2 separate regions of the Homo sapiens genome follow, and region 1 is linked to region 2. The links come from fine-mapping of genetic effects on gene expression. A gene starts in region 2. The other region holds a variant in brackets. All regions are shown on one strand. Distances are between the middles of the regions.

The links.
Region 1: its variant is fine-mapped to the expression of TXNDC5 in whole blood (TOPMed, PIP above 0.99).

The regions. Positions count from the first base shown.
Region 1 is chr6:7,935,441-7,947,413 of GRCh38, reverse strand. The region is part of intron 4 of BLOC1S5-TXNDC5 (BLOC1S5-TXNDC5 readthrough (NMD candidate)); the gene reads left to right. Among named protein-coding and RNA genes, the nearest start is that of TXNDC5, 31 kb to the right of the region's middle. RefSeq lists an enhancer at 8,481-8,550. The variant GCCCA/A (reference allele first, on the strand shown) is at 6,371.
Region 2 is chr6:7,903,681-7,915,653 of GRCh38, reverse strand. TXNDC5 (thioredoxin domain containing 5) reads left to right here and starts at 4,866. Exons shown (of 10, transcript NM_030810.5): 1 at 4,866-5,140; 2 at 10,931-11,080. The coding sequence starts at 4,878. It overlaps BLOC1S5-TXNDC5 (BLOC1S5-TXNDC5 readthrough (NMD candidate)), which reads left to right. Exons shown (of 13, transcript NR_037616.1): 5 at 10,931-11,080. RefSeq lists an enhancer at 2,592-2,741 and silencers at 4,582-5,011, 5,382-5,501, 5,702-5,791.

The DNA.
Region 1 (11,973 bases), 32 kb before region 2:
CCTTTACAGACAAGCAAATGCTGAGACATTTTGTCACCACCAGGCCTGCCCTACAAGAGCTCCTGAAGGAAGCACTAAACATGGAAAGGAACAACTGGTACCAGCCACTGCAAAAACATGCCAAATTGTAAAGACCATCAAGGCTAGGAAGAAACTGCATCAACTAACGAGCAAAATAACCAGCTAACATCATAATGACAGGATCAAATTCACACATAACAATATTAACCTTAAATGTAAATGGGCTAAATGCTCCAATTAAAAGACACAGACTGGCAAATTGGATAAAGAGTCAAGACCCATCAGTGTGCTGTATTCAGGAAACCCATCTCACGTGCAGAGACACACGTAGGCTCAAAATAAAGGGATGGAGGAAGATCTACCAAGAAAATGGAAAACGAAAAAAGACAGGGGTTGCAATCCTAGTCTCTGATAAAACAGACTTTCAACCAACAAAGATCAAAAGAGACAAAGAAGGCCATTACATAATGGTAAAGGGATCAATTCAACAAGAAGAGCTAACTATCCTAAATATATATGCACCCAATACAGGAGCACCGAGATTCATAAAACAAGTCCTTAGAGACCTACAAAGAGAATTAGACTCCCACACAATAATAATGGGAGACTTTAACACCCCACTGTCAACATTAGACAGATCGATGAGACAGAAAATTCACAAGGATATCCAGGAATTGAACTCAGCTCTGCACCAAGCAGACCTAATAGACATCTACGGAACTCTCCACCCCAAATCAACAGAATACACATTCTTCTCAGCACCACACTGCACTTATTCCAAAATTGACCACATAGTTGGAAGTAAAGCACTCCTCAGCAAATGTAAAAGAACAGAAATTATAACAAACTGTCTCTCAGACCACAGTGCAATTAAACTAGAACTCAGGATTAAGAAACTCACTCAAAACCATTCAACTACATGGAGACTGAGCAACCTGCCCCTGAATGACTACTGGGTACATAACAAAATGAAGGCAGAAATAAAGATGTTCTTTGAAACCAACGAGAGCAAAGACACAACATACCAGAATCTCTGGGACACATTTAAAGCAGTGTGTAGAGGGAAATATATAGCACTAAATGCCCACAAGAGAAAGCAAGAAAGATCTAAAATCGACACCGTAACATCACAATTAAAAGAACTAGGGAAGCAAGAGCAATCACATTCAAAAGCTAGCAGAAGGCAAGAAATAACTAAGATCAGAGAAGAACTGAAGGAAATAGAGACACAAAAAACCCTTGAAAAAATCAATGAATCCAGGAGCTGGTTTTTTGAAAAGATTAACAAAATTGATAGACTGCTAGCAAGACTAATAAAGAAGAAAAGAGAGAAGAATCAAATAGACGCAATAAAAAAATGATAAAGGGGATATCACCACCGATCCCACAGAAATACAAACTACCATCAGAGAATACTATAAACACTTCTATGCAAATGAACTTGAAAATCTAGAAGAAATGGATAAATTCTTTGAAACATACACCCTCCCAAGACTAAACCAGGAAGAAGTTGAATCTCTGAATAGACCAATAACAGGCTCTGCAATTGAGGCAATAATTAATAGCTTACCAACCAAAAAAAGTCCAGGACCAGATGGATTCACAGCCGAATTCTACCAGAGGTACAAGGAGGAGCTGGTACCATTCCTTCTGAAACTATTCCAATCAATAGAAAAAGAGGGAATCCTCCCTAACTCATTTCATGAGGCCAGCATCATCCTGATACCAAAGCCTGGCAGAGACACAACAAAAAAAGAGAATTTTATACCAATATCCCTGATGAACATCGATGCAAAAATCCTCAATAAAATACTGGCAAACCGAATCCAGCAGCACATCAAAAAGCTTATCCACCATGATCAAGTGGCCTTTATCCCTGGGATGCAAGGCTGGTTCAACATACACAAATCAATAAACGTAATCCAGCATATAGACAGAACCAATGACAAAAACCACATGATTATCTCAATAGATGCAGAAAAGGCCTTTGACAAAATTCAACAGCCCTTCATGCTAAAAACTCTCAATAAACTAGGTATTGATGGGACACATCTCAAAATAATAAGAGCTATCTATGACAAACCCACAGCCAATATCATACTGAATGGGCAAAAACTGGAAGCATTCCCTTTGAAAACTGGCACAAGACAGGGATGCCCTCTCTCACCACTCCTATTCAACATAGTGTTGGAAGTTCTGGCCAGGGCAATCAGGCAGGAGAAGGAAATAAAGGGTATTCAATTAGGAAATGAGGAAGTCAATTTGTCCCTGTTTGCAGATGACAAGATTGTATATCTAGAAAACCCCATTGTCTCAGCCCAAAATCTCCTTAAGCTGATAAGCAACTTCAGCAAAGTCTCAGGATACAAAAATCAATGTGCAAAATTCACAAGCATTCTTATACACCAATAACAGACAAACAGAGAGCCAAATTATGAGTGAACTCCCATTCACAATTGCTTCAAAGAGAATAAAATACCTAGGAATCCAACTTACAAGGGATGTGAAGGACCTCTTCAAGGAGAACTACAAACCACTGCTCAAGGAAATAAAAGAGGATATAAACAAATGGAAGAACATTCCATGCTCATGGGTAGGAAGAATCAATATCATGAAAATGGCCATACTGCCCAAGGTAATTTATAGATTCAATGCCATCCCCATCAAGCTACCAATGACTTTCTTCACAGAATTGGAAAAAAACTACTTTAAAGAACTAAAAAAGAGTCTGCATTACCAAGTCAATCCTAAGCCAAAAGAACAAAGCTGGAGGCATCACGCTACCTGACTTAAAACTATACTACAAGGCTGCAGTAACCAAAACAGCATGGTACTGGTACCAAAACAGATATATAGACCAATGGAACAGAACGGAGCCCTCAGAAATAATGCCACATATCTACAACCATCTGATCTTTGACAAACCTGACAAAAACAAGAAATGGGGAAAGGATTCCCTATTTAATAAATGGTGCTGGGAAAACTGGCTAGCCATATATAGAAAGCTGAAACTGGATCCCTTCCTTACACCTTATACAAAAATTAATTCAAGATGGATTAAAGACTTAAATGTTAGATCTAAAACCATAAAAACCCTAGAAGAAAACCTAGGCAATACCATTCAGGACATAGGTGTGAGCAAGGACTTCATGTCTGAAATACCAAAAGCAATGGCAACAAAATCCAAAATTGACAAATGGGATCTAATTAAACTAAAGAGCTTCTGCACGGCAAAAGAAACTACCATCAGAGTGAACAGGCAACCTACAGAATGGGAGAAAATTTTTGCAATCTACTCATCTGACAAAGGGCTAATATCCAGAATCTACAAAGAACTCAAACAAATTCACAAGAAAAAAAACAACCCCATCAAAAAGTGGGTGAAGGATATGAACAGACACTTCTCAAAAGAAGACATTTATGAAGCCAAAAGACACATGAAAAAATGCTCATCATCACTGGCCATCAGAGAAATGCAAATCAAAACCACAATGAGATACCATCTCACACCAGTTAGAATGGTGATCATTAAAAAGTCAGGAAACAACAGGTGCTGGAGAGGATGTGGAGAAATAGGAACACTTTTACACTGTTGGTGGGACTGTAAACTAGTTCAACCATTGTGGAAGTCAGTGTGGTGATTCCTCAGGGATCTAGAACTAGAAATACCATTTGACCCAGCCATCCCATTACTGAGTATATACCCAAAGGATTATAAATCATGCTGCTATAAAGACACATGCACATGTATGTTTATTGTGGCACTATTCACAATAGCAAAGACTTGGAACCAACCCAAATGTCCAACAATGATAGACTGGATTAAGAAAATGTGGCACATATACACCATGGAATACTATGCAGCCATAAAAAATGGTGAGTTCATGTCCTTTATAGGGACATGGATGAAGCTGGAAACCATCATTCTCAGCAAACTATCGCAAGGACGAAAAACCAAACACCACATGTTCTCACTTATAGGTGGGAATTGAACAATGAGAACACTTGGACACAGGAAGGAGAACATCACACACCGGGGCCTGTTGTGGGGTGGGGGAAGGGGGAGGGATAGCATTAGGAGATATACCTAATGTAAATGATGAGTTAATGGATGCAGCACACCAACATGGCACATGTATTCATATGTAACAAACCTGCACGTTGTGCACATGTACCCTAAAACTTAAAGTATAATAATAAAAAAAAAAGAGGTTTAATTGGACTCACAGTTCCACGTGGCTGGGGAAGCCTCACAATCATGGTGGAAGGTGAGGAGGAGCAAAGTCACATCTTATGTGGATGGCAGCAGGCAAAGAGCAAGCTTGTGCAGAGAAACTCCTGTTTTTAAAACCATCAGATCTTATGAGACCCGTTCACTATCAAGAGAGCAGCATGGGAAAAACCCACCTCCATGATTCGATCATCTCCCACTGGGTCTCTCCCACAACATGTGGGAATTATGGGAGCTACAAGATGAGATTTGGGTGGGGACACAGAGCCAACCCATATCACCCTTTTAGATGAAAAGTTGTTTATACACCAATGACCCCTGGCTGCAGACATGGTATTGGGAATACACATGATAGCAGAATTTGGGGTTGTGATGACAGAAAACATAAAGAATGCTGAAGGTCAGAATATTTGGGTTCTATTTCCTTCTTTTCCACTTGTTAGCACTATCACAGGAAGCAAGAATCTTGATGTGCTTAACTCTAATTTTTCTCATCTCTCAACATGGAGAATAACACAATTTGCTTTATAGACCTCCAAGGAATGCAGTGAGGACAGGTCATGGGGGAAGATGAGGTGAGGGTGCTTTGCGAGGGGACTTTATAAACACAAGGTGTTGCTCCGTGCCTTGATGAGTGCCTGTGGAGCAACCAGGAGGCCAAGGGATTCCTGTGGAAAGAAAATTGAGGTGAGAAGGGGGGCCATCTAAGAGGACTTTGCTTTATCTCCATTGGTAGAATTTTAAGTAATGAGCATGTTTTAATAGATTACTTGTAATTTTAAAATGAAAGTGTACAGAAATAAAATAGGATGTTTTTTAAGGAAGATTAAATCAGTTATAGAAGTTTAATGTAAAAGAAGTAACTCATTTTTTCTTCCGCTGTAGTTCCACAATTCTTCATTATTCTGAAATCCAAAAAGTTTTGAAAGCAAAGACTTTTTTTCATACATTTTCAGCAAGCTTATTTGATCATAAAACATAATCTTCGCTAATGTGAGGCTAGTTTTTATTTCTGTACTTACACTTTTTGTAAATGTACACAGTGTTAACATGCTATGTAATATACAGGAACTAACTTTTGAAAATCTTAAAATTCTGATATACCAGATTTTATATAAGGAATGGTGCGTACCTGAATATGGATATTAAGTTCATGAATAAAACACATGCTCTAGTAGTTTTATTCAGGGTAAATTTATGAGCCAGTAGATTTATTCAGGCTAAATCTATGAGCCTCAGATCTGGTAATATTTTCGAGAGCATAATTCAGTACAACAAACATTTACTGAGCAGGTTCTGCTATGGTTTGCATGTTTGTCTCTTCTATTGAGATTACGTTGAAACTTAATCTCTAAGGTGGCAGTACTGAGAGGTGGGGCCTTTAAGAGGTTATTGGGTCATGAGGGCTCTGCCCTCATAAATGGGTTAATCCATTCATGGATTAATGGATCAGTGGGTTAATAGACTAATTGGGTTGTCATAGGAGCGGTACTGATGGCTTTATCAGAAGAAGAGAGATGTAAGCTAGCACACTCAGCCCCCTCACTACATGATGACTTGTGTTGCCTCGGGATTCTGCAGAGAGTCCCCACCAGCAAGAAGGCCCTCACCAGATGCAGCACCTTGACCTTAGACTTCTCAGCTTTTATAACTGTAAGAAATAAATTCCCTTTCTCTATAAATTACCCAGTTTCAGGTATTCTGTTATAAGCAACAGAAAATGGACTAAGTTTCTTTGTATGGGAATATAAAGACTAGCAAGTGGTGATTGCTGCTCCCAAGGAATTTGCATTGTAGTGGGGAAAACACTTCTATTTTAATTTAACACAAGGTATATTGAGTTCACTGCTGTAACAGGATGATAATCAGATCACAAAGATGGGTGAGAGCCCAGGGCCGGGCCCGGAAGGTGACGGAATCCATTCTGCATGCAGCAAGGAGGGAGAGAAGATTGTTTAAAGGCTCAATATTTTCAGTCCTTTTTCTTTCTAAATAGTACATTGTGTTGTTGACACTCTTTCTGTGAGCAGTAAGGGATCCTGTGGATTCAGCATTCCCCAAATATTCCCCAGGGTGATGAGACACACTGAAGGTGTAAAGATTGGGGGAACAGCGCCC[GCCCA/A]GTCATTCCAAACTATGGCGAGTCGATAGTCTTCCTTACCAGAGGTGGCGCTGTGGCAGAGAAGACTTAGTGCGGGGGTTCAGAAATGCCAGTTGCCCCTAAGCCCCATTTTGGGGGGTGGTTGATATTGAAATACATTGGTCTTAAAGCCACCAATAGAGTTGTGGATAGTGAAGAAAGACACTGATGATTAAAATGTAATTAAAACCAGTTTTTCCACTAACCCTATTTTGGCCAGACCAAGTGCTGAGATTTAATAAATAAGAGACCAGATAATTTTTTTTTTTATCTCTTGGTGCCTTATTTATATCCAGGGTGGCTTATGACTTTAGTGCTTCTATTATTGCCCGCCGCCCCTTCCTTCCTTCCTTCCGTTCATTCTTTCTTTCTTTCTTTCTTTCTTTCTCTCTCTCTCTCTTTCTTTCTTTCTTTCTTTCTTTCTTTCTTTCTTCTTTCTCTTTCTTCTTTCTTTCATTCTTTCTCTTCGTTTCTTTTTTCTTCTCTCTCATTTTCTTTCTCTCTCTCTTTCTTCTTTTTTCTTTTTGTTTTCTGTGGAATCTGCCTCTTTTTCTTTTATTTCCACTTTTATGATTACTAGAAAGCCATGGTTCCATAATATGGATATAATAGCATATCTGGGATGACCGTGACTCCAGAGCTGCAGGTAGAAACAGCTCCAGGTCATGTAAAGAAGGTGTGTGTCCTTTAATGGAAGATAATTTGAGCATTAAAAAAAAAAAATGTCCAGCCTTCCATCAAACACAGGAGAGCAGTTGCAGAATTAGCAGTCAGGAAACACTGTCTTTATGATCCATGACAACTTCAGTAGCTGTGTGGCATGCGTGAGCTCTGGTGGCCTAACTGAAAAGCCCTGGTGATTAGCAGTACAGCAGAGAGAAGTGCAAAGGAGTAACAGCACAATAGCATAGGCACTGGTTTAAATCTCAGCCTCCAGAGCTCCAAGTTGTGAAAGCTCTAACAGGAAAGGGCTGCAAACTCACATCGTTCCACGCAGAGGGAGCTGTGGCTCATGGCTCTGGGGAAAGCTAATGGCTCCTTGTCGTGACCATAATTTCATTGTAGTGGCAGTTGCCAAACCCAAAGAGAAAACGGAGAGGAGAACAACTTTTATGAAACTATTTCCTCTCAAACACACAAAACTTGTCAACTTAGTTAGAGCTGTATTCCTCCCAGGGGATGCCATCTTCTGGGCTGTCAAACCCATAACATTTGTGGGTGGCAAGATGATGTCATCTGTGTTCGGCAGCTTGTAGTAATTTCCACTGTGAGCCCTGCGCAGAGGTTGAGATGATTGCCATAAATGGGATCTAAGCTTACAGATGAAAGCCTCACTTTTCGTTTCCATTGAGTTCACAATACTCTTTAGCAGGATGACAATTGTGCTGTCGTCAACATTACATCATGCTATCTCCCTCGAAATGGCATCATTCAAGCGTGTGAGCACAGCTGTGAAAACAAAACAGATTTTGCTGTGAGCTTAGTAAATCCTCAAAGCACATTCTAATTGGTTTGCTTGTTTAAAAGTAATATCAAAAATATAATGTCAAAATTGTTGCTGCTGCAAGTGAGTCAGAGAGAAGTTCAGGAGCTCCGGAGGCCCTGAGAGATCAGGCGTGGGTGCTGTGACTGGGCCCTGTCAGTAGAGCCCCTGTCAGGAGTCTTGTTCCTGCGTGGAGGCCCAGTGTGAGCTTGGGTAGAAGTGCTCCTGACAGCCCATGGAGCAAACGCCGGCCTGCCATGCAAATTCCCCTTAGTCCACAAGGCTGGGGGGCACTTATATCACCAGCTGATAACTATGGGGGACCAAGTGATTATTTCCCAATCTGAAGACAACATTTACTATAACCACTATCAAGATCTGCAAGGCTGAGCACCTTTGACAATGAATAATTCCACATCTGGAGAAGCATCCCATCAAATAAATGTAACAACAGTATATAATAAGCAGATACTGTCAGCTCACAGTGCAAAGCAGAAGAAGCTTCCTGATGTTGGAATAAGTGTCAGCTGACAAGATGTTTCCTAGATGAACAGGAAAGGCTGACATGACTGACTGTGGATTAAAATGTGAACCAAAGGAAGGTTTACTTCCTTTATTCTACAAATGGCAAAAACTGCCTAACTCACAGAATGTGCCTAGTTGGTGGCTACCAGAAATGGCTTTACTATACTTTGTGTAAAAAGTGTGTCACTTGGACCTCTGAGACACATACTGGAGAGTCACCGGCAGAGAGTTCTGAGCAGTTCAGGACTTCAGGTTGTTCTCCTTCTGGACAGCAGGACAGTGCTGGAGCTCTCTTAGCTCCTCGGTCTTGTCTTGTGTTGTGTTAAAAAAGTGCAGAGAGGGGAATAAAAAGAGGAAGTTCACCAGGACAGCAGAAAAAAGGTGCCTCCGTGCCACTGCACTCCAGCCTGGGGGACAGAGTGAGACTCCGTCTCAAACAACAACAACAAAAAAAGGCGCCTCCTTCAAAGAGCCGTGTATCCCTAGGCAGAAGCCATCTAGTTGGAGCCAGCAATGATTCATTCCTGGGATTCACGTCTCCTTCCAAAATGGAAGGATATTCGGAGGCTCGGTATTGCCAAGTGAGGGAAGATTTGGAGGTGGTTTACTTTGCTGGGGCTGCCATAACAAAGTACGCGAGACTGGGTAGCTCAAACACCAGGGTTGGTTTCTCCTGAGGCCTCTCTCCTTGGCTTGTAGATGACATCTTCTCCCCATGTCCCCATGTGGTCTTCCCCCTGTGATTCTGTGTCCTAATCCCCTACTTGTAAGGACACCAGTCATACTGGCTGAGGACCCACCCACCCTAATTGTCTCCCTTTAACTTAATTATCTCTGTAGAAAACCTGAGGTCCTGGGGGTTAGGACTTCTACTTTTGAATTTGGGAGGGGCACAACATAGCCCATAACAGAGAGCATCTTCAGAGTCCGTGTCTCCTGCAGCTAAACTCAGGCACGCTTTTGGCCTCACCGGACAGGATTGCCATGGTGTGACTAGGAAGGACCACTCGAGAATCTCGGGCCAGGTGCGTGGCTCAGGCCTGTAATCCAGCAACTTTGGGAGGCTGAGGCCAGCGGATCATTTGAGTTCCAGACCAGCCTGGCCAACATGTTGAAACCCCGTCTCTACTAAAAATAAAAAAATTAGCCTGGTGTGGTGGTGCGCACCTGTAATTCCAGCTACTCTGGAAGCTGAGGCAGAAGAATTTCTTGAACCTGGGAGGCGGAGGTTGCAGTGAGCCGGGATTGCACCACTGCACTCCAGCCTGGGCAACAGAGTGAGACTCTGTCTCAATTAAAAAAAAAAAAAAAGAATATCAAGGATGACACCATTTGGGTTTGTCTTTAGAGCTCGACTGTAAAATTCCATCACTAGCCTTATTTGCATTTAAAAACTGCTTATCGTCCTACACAAGGGACAAAGTTTAGAACTGCTATGGAAAATTTTTTTTCCTAGGGGAAGAGTTAATTTCTCCCTTCACTTCTGCCAACAGAAGTTTCCAGGGTGTAGGGCACTTCTTAAAGTCCTTATGAGGTCCTCATTATTGTGTCTATTTTGCAGACAAAAAACTTTGCCAGCAAGTCTTTGGCAGAGACAGCCCTGTAACTCAGAAATTCCAGACTCCAGCCTCAGTGACACAGATGTGAGCAGTGGTAGCTGCTACCACTGCCGACGAGTAGCTCTTTCTGGTGGGGTCCCTGGAGCTGCTCGGCTGAACATAGCAACACAACACACCTCAGAACCCCACGACTCTTCCTTTGATACAAAAGGGAGGTTGCTGCTGTGGGTGTCAGGGTTTGGCTGGAGCAACAAAAATCACATTTATGTTTATGAAAAATTGCAGAGAGTTTTTTTAATTGAGCAGAAAAATTATACTTACATCACTGAGGTTTGTCCATCATTAAATGCATGTGGTATATTTTATATTATGTCTGACCTAGGTGTGTGAGGCTGTAGATTCTTCTGTGTTTAAACACTGAGCAAGGAGGCACAACTGAGTAAATACTAGGTATCCAAGACCTGATTTTTTATGAACTTGGCTTCACAGTTCTCCCATTATTAGTAAGTCTGAAGACTTAGGATATTACATTGATTTTGTTACCTGAATGCAATCAGTTGTTAAAGTTTCTTAACCTTTTATGTTTACACATATGGATTAAAAAGAGAAGATAAAGAAGATAACAAAGACATAGCCACAGGAGATGAAATATGGAATAAAGGCTGGGTGCGGTGGCTCATACCTGTAATCCTAGGACTTCAGGAGACCAGTGGCGGATCATCTGAGGTCAGGAGTTTGAGACCAGCCTGGCCAGCTGATGGAAATCTGTCTCTACTAAAAATACAAAAATTAGTTGGGCGTGGTGGTGGGCACCTGGAATACCAGCTATTTGGGAGGCTAAGGCAGGAGAATCACTTGAACCCAGGAGGCAGAGGTTGCAGTGAGCCGAGACTGCACCATTGTACTCTAGCCTGGGCAACAAGAGAGAAACTCTGTCTCAAAAAAAAAAAAAAAGAAAGAAAGAAAGAAAGAAAAAGAAAAAAAGAAATATGGACTAAAATTCTCTAAAAAAAGATTTTTATTTCTATGGAGTTATAACTTCACTAAACAGCAAAGAGAGAAGAAGAGAAAATATACTTGTTAAATTTTTAAAAATATTTTTGTAAGTTTTTCATAAGAGATTCTGTTTATAAGTAACTTTGAAATTAATTTTATTGTCTTTGGTACCAGAAATTTTGACTCAAACAAAGAAAGTTTGGATATGTGCATTAAGTGAAATAGATGTGTTGAGTGATGCAGTATCCTTCGGAAGTAAAAAGGAATAAACTGATGCATCTTTAGACATTTGAATGTCAAGCACTGAGAAGTTGCCTTTTTTCAGAGACAGGTGTTAATTTACTCTGAATTAGTGTACATATAATAAGTGGTAGGATATTTCTAAATCAGCTATTTATTAAATAAAATACAATAGGGACTGTGGAGTCTTTCACTGGTTAGTGAAGGTATTAAAGTTTGCTCAAACTTCTTAATTTAAAGCAAATAAATTTACAAATAGATTAATTGTGAAGGCAGTGTCCAGTTTACAGTCCATATACTCTACAATGCAAAAATAATAAAAATTCTAAATTTTCAGGTTTAGAATGTGCAATTTGGAAGGTTCATATAGTTTAAGAGAAAAGGAAGGGAAAAAAAACCGTTGTAATCACCACACCTAAGATAATTATGCTTTTTTACTTTTTCATTTTGAGACAGAGTCTCATTGTGTCACCCAGGCTGGAGTGCAGTGGCACAATCTTGGCTCACTGCAACCTCCACCCCCCTGGCTCAAGCAATTCCCCTGCCCCAGCCTCCCGAGTAGCTGGGATTACAGGTGCATGCCACCACGCCTGTCTAATTTTTTTGTATTTTTAGTAGAGATGGGGTTTCACTGTGTTGGCCAGACTGGTCTTGAACTCCTGACCTCAGGCAATCCACCTGCCTTGGCCTCCCAAAGTGCTGGGATTACAGGCATGAGCCACCATGCCCGGCCTGCTCTTTCATTTGAAAAAGATGTTCTGGTCTCTCAGGTAAAGAT
Region 2 (11,973 bases):
GCTGGGAGTTCAGAGGAAGTGACGCTGAGCAGCCTGTGTGGAGGGGTGGCCGGGTCATGCAGGAAAGGCCGCATGTGAGAGAAGGTGCCAGGCACAGTGAGTCAGTTTGTTTTGGTGGAGCCTGGGAAAGAGATGTGGTTAGAAAGAGGGGTTCCTTCATCCAACACTTGTTGAGCCTCAACTGTATCCAGGCATTTGGGTGCTAGGGAGAGAGAAGTGAATGTGGCAAATAGCCCCTGGCCTTCGGGGAGCTTATTGATGGAGAAGACGGCCACCTTAACCAGCTAAGTCTGCAACAAAATGGCATCAAATGACAAAAAGTGTTATGCAGAAATTAAACAGCATGGCACTGGTGAGAGCTCAGTGGGCAGAGGGAGGCTGCTGCAGAGAGGGGCTTTGACTTGTCAATGTGGAAAGGCAATCGCCAGGCACTGAGGAGGTGGCGTGGGGGCAAGAGACCTGAGGGTGCAGGGAGTCCAGTCACAGAAGACAGGAAGGGAACAAGCACAGGGCACCACACACAAGGGCCTGAGAAGGGGAATGCTGGGAGGGTATCTAGAATCATCCCTAATGGCTAGAATCTAGGCGAGCAGAGGGCAGAGTGGTATGGGTTGAGATTGCATCTTTCCTGAAGGCCCTTGCAAGCCAAGGCAAAGAGCTGGAATTTGACTGTATGTGAAGGGAAGCCCCTGAAGGAAGTTAAGCAAAGGAGTGACACGATTCAATTCTAGCTGCTGGATGAAGGATGGATGGGAAGGACTTAAGAGTGGAAACAACATTCAGGAGGCTACTGTAGCAGACAGGAAGAGAAGGATATGGCAGCAGTGGAGAGATATCAGTCAGTGGGAGCTGTGGCTCAGAGATGGCAATGATTGGACTTGCTGATGGGGAGATCGAGTAGGAGGCGGGGATCAAGGCACTGCAATAAAGAAAAAGGGTAACAAAGTTTACAACTCAGAGGTCGGGGGTGGTGGCTCACACCTGTAATCCCAGCACTCTGGGAGCCTGAGGCAGGCAGATCACTTGAGGCCAGGAGTCTGAGACAAAGTTTGCAACTCAGGTTTCTGGTTTGTGCAACAGCGAGGAAGAACTATTTACTGAGGAGGGGAAATCGGAGGACAAGCAGATTGCTGCAGGGAAGCACAAGGTCAGCTTCAGCACACCTGCAGGACAAACAAGAGGAGGCATCCTGTAGATAGTGAGAGCTCAGAGAGAGGCCTCGGCTGCAAATGTACACTTTGGCAGCAGCATATAGATGGTGTTAAAGCCATGGCTATGGATGAGATCACCTAGGGAGTGATGCAGAGAAACAAAAGTGGGTTGGAGGCTGAGCGCTGAAAACTGACATCAAAGGTTGGGTTGAAGAGACTGAGGAGTGACGTGGGGATGGTAGGAGGTAGATCAGAGAAGCAGAAAGGACGGTGGATGCAGATGGGGCCAATGGCAGTTGTACCAACGCTGCTGAGAAGCCCAGGAAGATGAGGAACATAAAGTGTTCATTTGACTTGTCAATGTGGACATCTTCAGTGACTTTGAGAAGACTTGGTGTGTGGCAGGTTTGAGAGTCAGAGTGGCATGAGCTGAAGGATGAATGGAAAGTGAAATACAGATAATTTTTTTTTTTTTTTTGCTTATACACTGATGAAAATGGTCCAGTAGGAAGGAGTGATGAGTAACTTGTGCAGGAGAGAAAGAGAGGAGCTGAAGAACAAAGCCTTTGAGCAGGGAGCAGGGAGGGCATATGAGATTCCTAGGGCTGCTGTAACACCACACTCTTGGTGGCATAAAACCACGTACGTTTATTCTCTTACAGTTTTGGAGGTCAGAAGTCCAAAACCAGTTGCACTGGACTATAAATTGTCCACAGGACTGCAGGTCCCTCCAGAGGCTCTGAGGGGGAGTCTATTTCCTTGCTTTTTCCAGCATCTAGAGCTGCTTTTCCTGGCTCTTGGCCCCTTCATCTTCCAAACCAGCAGTTTAACATCTTCAAATCTCTTTCTGCTTTTGTTACGTCGCCTCCGGCTGTGTAGTCAAATTTCCTACTGCCCCTCTGTTATGAGGACACTTGTGATCACATTTAGGACCCACCGAGATAATCCAGGGTAATCTCTCCAGCTCACGACCCTTAATTTAATCACACCTGCAAAGCCTTCTGCCATATAAAGAAACAATCAGATGTTTCAGGAATTAGGACCTGGTTATCCGTGAGGGGCATTATTCTGGAGGACTGGGCTTTGCTAGGCAGGGATATACTGACTTGCTCCTTTGTGGGCAGAGGGAAAGGCGCCTGTGCAGGGGTGTGTAGATTTGGCGGGGGAGGGATAAGGGAGCTCATGCTTTTGGCTTCATTTTTCTCAGAAACATGAGATAAAGCTGGCAGCTGAGAGGATGGCGACTGACAGGGTGGGGTGGGGAGAGGAGAGGAGGAGCAGTGTCAGTGGAAGTATGGAAGCATCTCAGAGAGTGGGGCAGCACACTGCCTAGGCAGAGGTAGTCAGTTTTAGGGCAGGGGTGAGGAGGAATTTAAGGCTTATTTTTACCAGTGTGAAGGAGACATGCGGCTTGACTGTGCGATTTTTCTCCAGCAGAGTCTGGCTACCTGGTTGAAGGCACAGGGAACCCAGAGAGACAAAGCTCACCAGCATCTGTGGGGAGAATGTGGCAGGGCAGGAAGTGAAGGGTGAGACTCCATGGGCTGTAACTTGGCCAAGAGGCAAGAGAAGACATAGCAGTCTGTTGGGCTGCGAGGGGATTGTAGAAGATGGTGGGGTGGGTAGCTCAGAGGTCATGATGAGAAAGAAGCATTGCAGAAATGGGTTTCTTGAGCAAACAGTCGAGGAGGTGCTGGGCAGAGTGGATGCCTTCAGATTTTGGAGATGGTGCAGATGCTGGTGATGACAAGTGCTAGGGTCTCCCTTTTGGGTGTGAGTTACTGAGGGAAAGGTAGATGGAGCATCCACCTGGATGCTGAAGATGCCAGGAATGAAAGACAGGAAAGGGGTGGCCAGGAACACTGTGAGCCAGGAACCAAAGTCTTCACTGAACCAGGAAGAGTGATGTGGAAGAATGACAGGAACTGGCAGGGAAGAGGGTGCCATGCCCAGTGGCATCAATTTAAGGAGTACTGAAGGTTTTGTAGGATTTGGAAGGAGCAATGGGGAACCAGGAAGGCATCAGCTTTACTTCCTGGCTCTGAGGGACTCCAGGTGTGAAAGAATGAGCAGCCAACACTTGAGAGAGCTCCTAGAACTGTGTTTCAGTTAAAAACGAAAGACACTGATGCTGTAAGAGTGTATGGCGATGCTTGTGGGAATTTCCCAACAGCACCGTGGAAGGGTTTGGGAGGTTTGAGGTGTTGGAGAACACAGGGATTAGAGTTTGGCAATAACAGTTATTGGAGAGAATCCCTGGATTTCTAGTGTTGAGTGAGTTTCACAGGGACACAAAGCATGATGCAACCACATCACGGAAGGCCTTGAATGGCTGCCCCAGGCATGACTATTTCACCCCATCGGCCAAGGCCATGGGGACAGTGGTGGCGTTTTGGTCCAAGTTTAAGCAGCAAACTGTCTTGGTCAAAGGCAGGCTTTAGGAAAATTAATTTTCCAGCCATGTGAATGAAAGAGACTCTTAGAAAGCTACTGCAATAGGCCAGGCTTAGTCTCCGTTCAGGGTATGAACACTGAGAATGCTGGAAGGAAATCATGGTTACAGGAAATGCGGTTGAATTTTGAGACACACGGGAAAAGAGCGAGCAATACAAGATGCCTCCCATGTTTCAAGCTTAAGTGGCTGGAAGAACAGACTTTGGAGGGAGATTGATGGTTTTGGTGTTTGGCAACCCATGGTTAAAGGTTCATAAGTGGCTGGGCCTAAGGCGGGAGCAGAATAATGACAGGTGAGACAGTGGGCGCGTCCCCTGTTGCCAAGCCAGGAGTTAACTACCTGGGGCTTCCTGGATTGAGGATAATCAAAGAGCAGGCAGGATCCCGGAGAGCAACCCGGTGATTCTAATTTAGCTTCAGATCCCCGGGGTAGGGCTGGAGCTTTCGATTACCATCTGCTGTAAGGTGTGTGTGCAGGTGCGAGTTATGAGTCGCTGGGCAGGGATGCCTTCGGGCCATTCCACAGGCTGAGTTCAGCCATAGCAGGCGTGCTGTCATTCATTTTAGTAACCGGCATAAATGAGGGCACAGTAGGACCCCAGTCAGTCCTGCTAGGTGCCTTCTTGTCTAGAAGAGGCCGCTTTGACTTTCTTTCCTCTTCATCCCTGAGTTGAGGCCGGGCAGGGGTAACCAGCAAGGGGTTCACTTGGGAAGCGGGTTTCATCACCCCTCTGAGCCCAGGTCGAGAATCACAGTTGAGCTCTGGCCAAGAATCTAACTAATTCAGGTGCAAACCCCACCGTCTTTTGCCCGATTTCCTATATTCTGCTGACAGCAGCTCTCTCCTTCCTTTGGCCTGAAATCGCGGGGTGCTTGTGTGAGCTGAGATTAGCCGAGGCTGACCTGCCCCTCCGTGGCTTCCCGCTGGCCTCATCGTTACTTCGTGTGTTCACCGCCGCTCTGAGCAGAGCGGGCCCCTGGGGAAAGGGGTGCGGGCCTGGGTTGCGGAGGCGCAGGAGCCTCGCGGGATTGGGGCGAGCCGTCCCATGGCGGGAAGGCAGGAGGCCGGACTCGGAAGGCTCTCCCAGACTCGGTCCCTCGCTCCAGCCCTTCCCTGCCGGTGCGCGGAGCCGGGGCTCGGGCGGGTAGCGGTCGCGCGCCGGCGCGGGCGGGCGGGGAGAGGAAGGGGCGCGGCCTCTCCGGGGCGGGGCGCGGGGCGGGCGCTGCGAGGGGACCGGAGGCCGCGGCGAGAGCGCGCCCAGCCCCGCCGCGATGCCCGCGCGCCCAGGACGCCTCCTCCCGCTGCTGGCCCGGCCGGCGGCCCTGACTGCGCTGCTGCTGCTGCTGCTGGGCCATGGCGGCGGCGGGCGCTGGGGCGCCCGGGCCCAGGAGGCGGCGGCGGCGGCGGCGGACGGGCCCCCCGCGGCAGACGGCGAGGACGGACAGGACCCGCACAGCAAGCACCTGTACACGGCCGACATGTTCACGCACGGGATCCAGAGCGCCGCGCACTTCGTCATGTTCTTCGCGCCCTGGTAACGCCGCGCAGGCCGGCGCCCTGCCCCGCACTTGGCGCTTCGCGGGGCGTGGGGCGCTTGGGCGCCGCGGGCGGGGGGTCCCGGGGCCACGTGGACGCCGACGGCTCTGGTCTGCGGCGTGCGTGCTACGGGCGCGGGGCTCGGGGCTCAGGGGTGCGGGGTGTAATACTGGGGGCGCGGGGCCGGGAGCGCGGGGACCCTGCGGGTTCGGGGCTCCGGCTGGCGGGGAGCGGGGGGCGCGGGCGCCGCGGCTCGGGGCCGGGAGCCGGGGACTGCAGGGGACCGAGGGCTTGGGGCTCCGGGTCGGGAGGCGTGAGCTCAGCGGGCCGGGCACTGGCGGCTGACGTGGCGCTCGGCGGCCGGGGCGGTGCGGGAGGAGGGGGCGGACCCCTAGGGGACAGCCGGGAAAAGCCCGCCCTGCGCCGCGCTCCTGAATTCAACCGCCTCTTGCACCTCGGCACCGAGGGAGGGGAAGGTGGGGTCGTCGCCCTTTCGGGCAGCCGGGAGTCCAAATGTCACCCCGCGGTCCCTGCCCAGCGCCCCAAACTTCCTGTGCCGGCCGGACGCGCGGCCTGCCCGTGGGCCACGTGCACTCACCAGAGCGGCCTTGCTGCTGCCGCGGCCACCGGGGTCGGCTGGGACAGACTGCGGGCACGTCCCCTTCCAGAGGCTTTAACTGAAAAATAGAACCCAGGAAGGTGTGGTTTCCCACTTTGTGCGTCTTTTGTGGGATAGGAAGGAGTGGTCCGGGCAGAGGAGGGTTGCTGAGCTACCCCGGGAAGACCAAGGTAGTGCGAATTCTGGAACCCCTCCGCCCCCCTGCAGCTCAGGGTGGATGTAATCTCTGAACGGAGCCCACTGGTCCTCAACTCCAGGCTGTCCTGTCACCTCCCTGCTGCTCTCTCGGGTCCAGGTCACTTGTTATGTGTGAGATCGGAAAAGCCCCTCCGTTGAGCAGATGGTCCCTCTTGCTTTGGTTCTCTGGGCGAGGCTTTGGTGTGGGCCTCGCTGCTGACCTGAGAGACCCTACCCTGGCACTCATCCCACGGAAGAGCTTCCTGTCATTCACACAAGCATGTGCACAGCTTTCCTGCCAGTGCCGGGATGCCCCGAGGAAGGGAAGTGACCACAGGCCAGAGCAGAAAGCCATAATTTTAGGACACAAGACCTTTGAGAGGTTGGAATAGCCTGCAGGTTCTTGTTGCAGAACTTGGTATTCTTCCCCAGAGCTCAGTAGAGGCTCACTTGGGAAAGGGATGTAGGGAGGCATAGAGAAAAGGTACCCTAAGAAAAATGGCCAGTTCAGAAATTGTACCTTTCAAACTGGGAGAAACGTTTTTCTCTTAACCTTGTATTCAGGCTATTACTGCGTTTCAGTTCATTTGGAGTTAAATCAACTTTTAGGGCCACTGTGGGTTTATTAACAATGTGTATATGAAGTACATTATGTTTCACATTCCTAAGAACCAACTGACTCGAATTTTTACAACTCCAATGGTTTAGAAATTACTTTGTAACATAAAACAATCAGGCAGTATTAACAGTTTCTCTTTGTTCGGGAGTATTCTCAGCAACTATTTCAATTAAGTGTACTACTTAATTGGAGCCTATTTCAGTGGAATACATCTGTCGATGGGTTTTCTTTTTTCTTTCTTCATTATTTATTTATTTTAGAGATGGGATCTTGCTCTGTTACCCAGCCTGAAACCAGTGGTACGCAGCCGCAGCTCACTGTAGCCTCTAACTCCTGGGCTCAAGTGATTCTCCTGCCTCAGCCTCTGAAGTAGCTGTGACTACAGGCGCAGGTCATCACACCCAGCTTATTTTGTTGTTGTTGTTTTTGTTGTAGTTGGTAGAAACAGGGTCTCGCTATGTTGCCGGGGCTGGTCTCAAACTCCTGGCCTCAATCAGTACTTCTGCCCTGGCCTCCCAAAGTACTGAGATTACAGGCATGAGCCATCGCATCCCATTCTTTACTTTTTTTTTTTTTTTAAAGAAAAACTGACATGCAGATGTAATAAGTCCCCACAGTGCCAAAGGAATTTTAAGTTTAGAATCTTTGCAATAAATACCAGCTAGTCCTGGGCTGAGTGAGAGAAAACTGGCACATCTGGGCACTTGGTATTAAGTAAATTCCTTTTCCATTATATGTGGCTTGTAGACATTTAGCTGGATGCTTCCAGAATAATTAGCTTTATGTTGTTACTTTTTTTTTTTTTTTTTTTTTTTGAGATGGAGTCTTGCTCTGTTGCCAGGCTGGAGTGCAGTAGCGCAATCTTGATTTACTGCAACCTCCACCTCCTGGGTTTAAGCGATTCTCCTGCCTCAGCCTCCTGAGAAGCTGGGACTACAGGTGCGTGCCACCACGCCCAGCTAATTTTTGTATTTTTAGTAGAGATGGGGTTTCACCATGTTGGCCAGGATTGTCTCGATCTCTTGACCTCGTGTTCTGCCCGCCTCTTCCTCCCAAAGTGCTGGGATTACAGGCGTAAGCCACCGCACCTGGCATATTTGTTGACTTCTTGATAGTCTACTACAAATACTTAAACAGAGATATGTGGGTTTCTATGATGGTGTTTAAGTTGGACTTTTAAGAGGGCCCTTTCAGAAAACTGCAGATACTGCAGTAGGGCTCACGAATAGGCTGCCAGGAAAGGAGGCTGAGTGGGCGGCGAGTCAAATGGGAGGTCAGCAGGGGCAAGATCAAGTAGGACCAACAATACCTGGCACAACACTTTGGTAAGTTGTAAGGCTGAGAGCAAGGTGGTGACTCTGGAGGGGTCTATGCAGGAGAGGGAAGGAGGTCCTGGAGTGGTGAGCTGAGCGTTTGGAGCTCAGATAGAAGACTCAGTGGACTCCCCCTCAACACACACATACCTTTTTCCAGTTTCAGCTGCCGTGGAGTGGTGAAAGCCCACGTGTGATTAAGGGGCTGGGGCCCCTGTAACAAAAACATCAATCTGTGTATTTTTGCCCTGCACTTGGCTTCTGCAGGGTTATCCTGCTGCTGTAGATTTTTTGCCAACATCAGGTCACAACTTCTGTATGGCCAGTTTGTGAGTCACCCTGAACCTGGTGACAGTGAGGTCAAGATTTGGACCAGGTAGCTTTGCTCTACTTCTTGGCCACAGGCTACCTTCTGAGTGCAGCTGCCTGTCTCAGAGTTGGGTGCTGTAGCCGCAGGGCCGACTAGATAGCACCTGTGGCCCCATCACAGCCAGGAGCAAGGGCACGCCCAACTTGGTGATGGCCCAGAATGGTCAGTTTTGATTTAGCGCACCACAAACTTATTTATTGTTTATTCTCATTCTTAATCTAATCTTGTGTTTTCTCAAAAAAAAAAAAGGGAAAAAAAAAGCAGTAGCAAAACAAAACCTTGTCAAGATTGCAGAGGAGTTCTAAAGTTCCAGAATGAGCATATCTGATCAAAGTCCCCTGAAGGTCAGAACTGCCCTTGACAGTCCCTTAGGAAGGTGCCTTGTTGGACACCGCCCCAGTCAGTCAGTCAGTCCCCACTGCCAGCGTTTCCTCCAGCATTAGAACTATCATGGCTTCTTTGGTTAAACACCAAATGGACTAGTTCTCAAACCTGTGCCTTTAGACAGCAGGGTCACACTTAATGTAGTCGGAGAGATGCTCATGCCATGAGAAGCATGTAGGAACCAAGGCCTGCTGAGGAACAAAAACCTCACATCTCCCAGCTTGCACACACTTCAGGGTTCTGTGGGAATTGCCTTTTTTTTTTTCTTGTTTCCTTCTCCCCCGCCACATAAACTCACTTTGTTGAATCTACAGAAGTTAAATCTGCATGTATAGTTTCATTGTGCTTTTTTTTTTGTATCTGAGTATCTCATAAAGCAGGGATTCTCTTAGCTGGCCAAGAAAGTGCTGTTTAGGGAAGACACATTAACTTGAAGCAGACTTTTTCAGTGCTACCTTTAAGTCTGTTTTTCTTTTTTTTTTTTTTTTTTTTTTGAGATGGAGTCTTGCTCTATCGCCCAGGCTGGAGTGCAATAGCATGGTCTCGGCTCACTGCAACCTCCGCCTCCCGGGTTCAAGCGATTCTCCTGCCTCAGCCTCCTGAGTAGCTGAGATTACAGGCGTGTGCCACCATGCCCAGCTAATTTTTGTATTTTTAGTAGAGATGGGGCTTCACCTTGTTGGTCAGGCTGGTCTCGAACTCCTGACCTTGTGATCCGCTTGCTTCGGCTTCCCAAAGTGCTGGGATTATAGGTGTGAGCCACCACACCCGGCTTAAATCCTTTTTTTCTTAAGAGACAAAATCTCTGTCACCCAGGCTGGAGTGCAGTGGTGTGATCATAGCTCGCTGCAGCCTCAAACTTCTGGCCTCAAGTGATCCCTCTGCCTCAGCCTCCCAGGTAGCTAGGACTGCAGGTGTGTGCCACCACACCAGGCTAATTTTTTAAAATTTTTTGTAGATGGGGGTCTCACTGTGTTGCCCAGGCCAGTCTTGAACCCCTGGGCTCAAGCAGCTCTCCTGCCTTGGCCTCCCAAAGTGCTGGGATTACAGGCATGAGCCACTGCTACCGACTTAAATGCTTATTTTTGAGGTAATCTGTCAGAAAATAAAAGGAGATTTAACAGATTATTAAATTATTTTGAGGAAGAAGTCACAATTCTAAGCGTTGAGTGTTCATATAAGCAAGTGTGTTTAAAAAAAAAGCATTTTAAAAAGCGATACAGCAAAGTGGTTACATTGTAGGCATCAGTGTGTTCCTGCCATATTAAATAGCAAACAAACCCATGTGTCATAATGCTATGGGATTGTAGTTGAAACCTGGGATAAAGTTTCTAGGGTTGTCTCATTCAAAATTCGAGTATGGCACTGTAGACATACTGTCCAGAGAACACAGCAAGAGCTGTGGTCAGCTGTATGACTTAAGGTCTAGTGTTGGGAAAGATGCTGATATCCTCATGAAATGTGAAGCATGGCAAGAAGCCTAGTTAAGATACTATTTTAAATGATGGGTGATTTTAAAATATTTATACATAACTGAATTCATACAATGAATACTAAGAATAGACATTTGCTTACTTCAACCCTAGAAGTATAGGTGGCCACAAACTTTTTTTTTCCCCTTCTCATTGGAGAAAATTGCAGGTGATTAAATTTTGAGATTGCCTTATGTTTGTAGCCATTTGGTTATATAGTGGAGGAGACTTGACGAATAAAAGTAGCAGATACAGCAGGAAGTGCTAAGCTACTGTCCAAGGGAGGAGTAGAGAGGCTTTCCAGAAGGGCAGGAGAAGAGAATGGGTGCTGAACAGCCCGGGGAGTCAGGGCCAACTTGCTAGAGGAAGTGACACCCAAACTAAACCTGAAGGGCAGATAGATTTAGCTAGGTGGAGTTTAGGGACGAAGTGTCAGAGAGAATGTGTCCCAGGGCCAAGCCAAGCTATAGTCCTTTGGGAACACTGCAGATGCTGCAGTAGGGCTCAGGAGTAGGCCACAAGGGAAGGAGGGTGGACTCTGGGATAGAAGTCAAGCGGGAGGTCAGCAGGGCCAGAACAACTAGGATCCAGAACAACACTTTGCTAAGTTTAATACTGGAACAAGGCCAAGATTTCATGCTGAGAACAGGGCAGTGACTCTGGAGGGATGGGAGCAGGGGAGAGAGGTCCTGGAGTACTGGTCCAGGAGCTGCCATCTGCAATGGTGTAAAGAAAGGACTGAGAGCCCCATTGTCCCCTGGACAGAGCTGAAGTTGTGGGCCAGCTGCCCTGTGACCTGATACTCAATGTGCTTGTACTCTTGCCTTGTTCCAGGTGTGGACACTGCCAGCGGCTGCAGCCGACTTGGAATGACCTGGGAGACAAATACAACAGCATGGAAGATGCCAAAGTCTATGTGGCTAAAGTGGACTGCACGGCCCACTCCGACGTGTGCTCCGCCCAGGGGGTGCGAGGATACCCCACGTAAGTTGGAAGGAAGGGGGCACACTTCCTAGGTGGCTCCTGGCTACAAAGAAAGTCCTAGTTAAACTTTTGGTAAAGGTGTGAAGAGATACTAAATTTAAGCAGGCAGTCCCTGTCATTAGGGAGAAACTGCATTTAATGCTGTGTCTGTTTTAGATGGCTTTTATACTTGGATAACCTTTAATTCATCAGTGTTGGGTTTTCCTGTTTATAAGAGAATGTGTTTGCAAGAGAAAAATGACGGTCCCGCCATGCTAGATGTTCACCGGTACATTTTACACAGTGTGCATGGACTGTCATCAGTTTTGGCTTGCTTTTGCTGGTGACTTATTCGCAAACACCCTTCCTATAGTTCCTTCCCGTGTGACTCCCACAGGGCTGTTCCTGTTGGAAAGAAAGTATAGAGTCTGACAGACGATGATACTTACTTCCTTGACAGTTAAGAATTTTTTTGGTTATAAGAAATAGAAATTGAAATGTTCTCAATTCTAGAAATAGAATTGTTCTCTTATTAAACAGAAAGAAAGGACTATTTAAAAGGCTGTGGAGGAACCTCTGAGAGCCAGCTCCAGGGGCCTGGGGTCTGTTTCTCCTGCACCTCCCTTGAGATGACGGCTTTCCAGGCCTGTATCTCTGTTTGCACAGAAGGGCCCACCACTGACTGGCCCTGCTTGGCTGGAATGTTCGTTCCAGGAATAGTCACTGTGGCCAGGGAAACAGGAGCTTATAGCAAGACACATGCCCATTCACACCATGTGCCAAGTGTTGGAGGGAAAAGCAGTTCTTCAAAAAAGAGAAGAAGCTGTTTCTGAAGGAGGTGGAGGGATTGCCACGGTCACTTCCTTGCTGTTTGTTTCAATTGAGGAATGAAGTCAATTCTATACAATTTATTG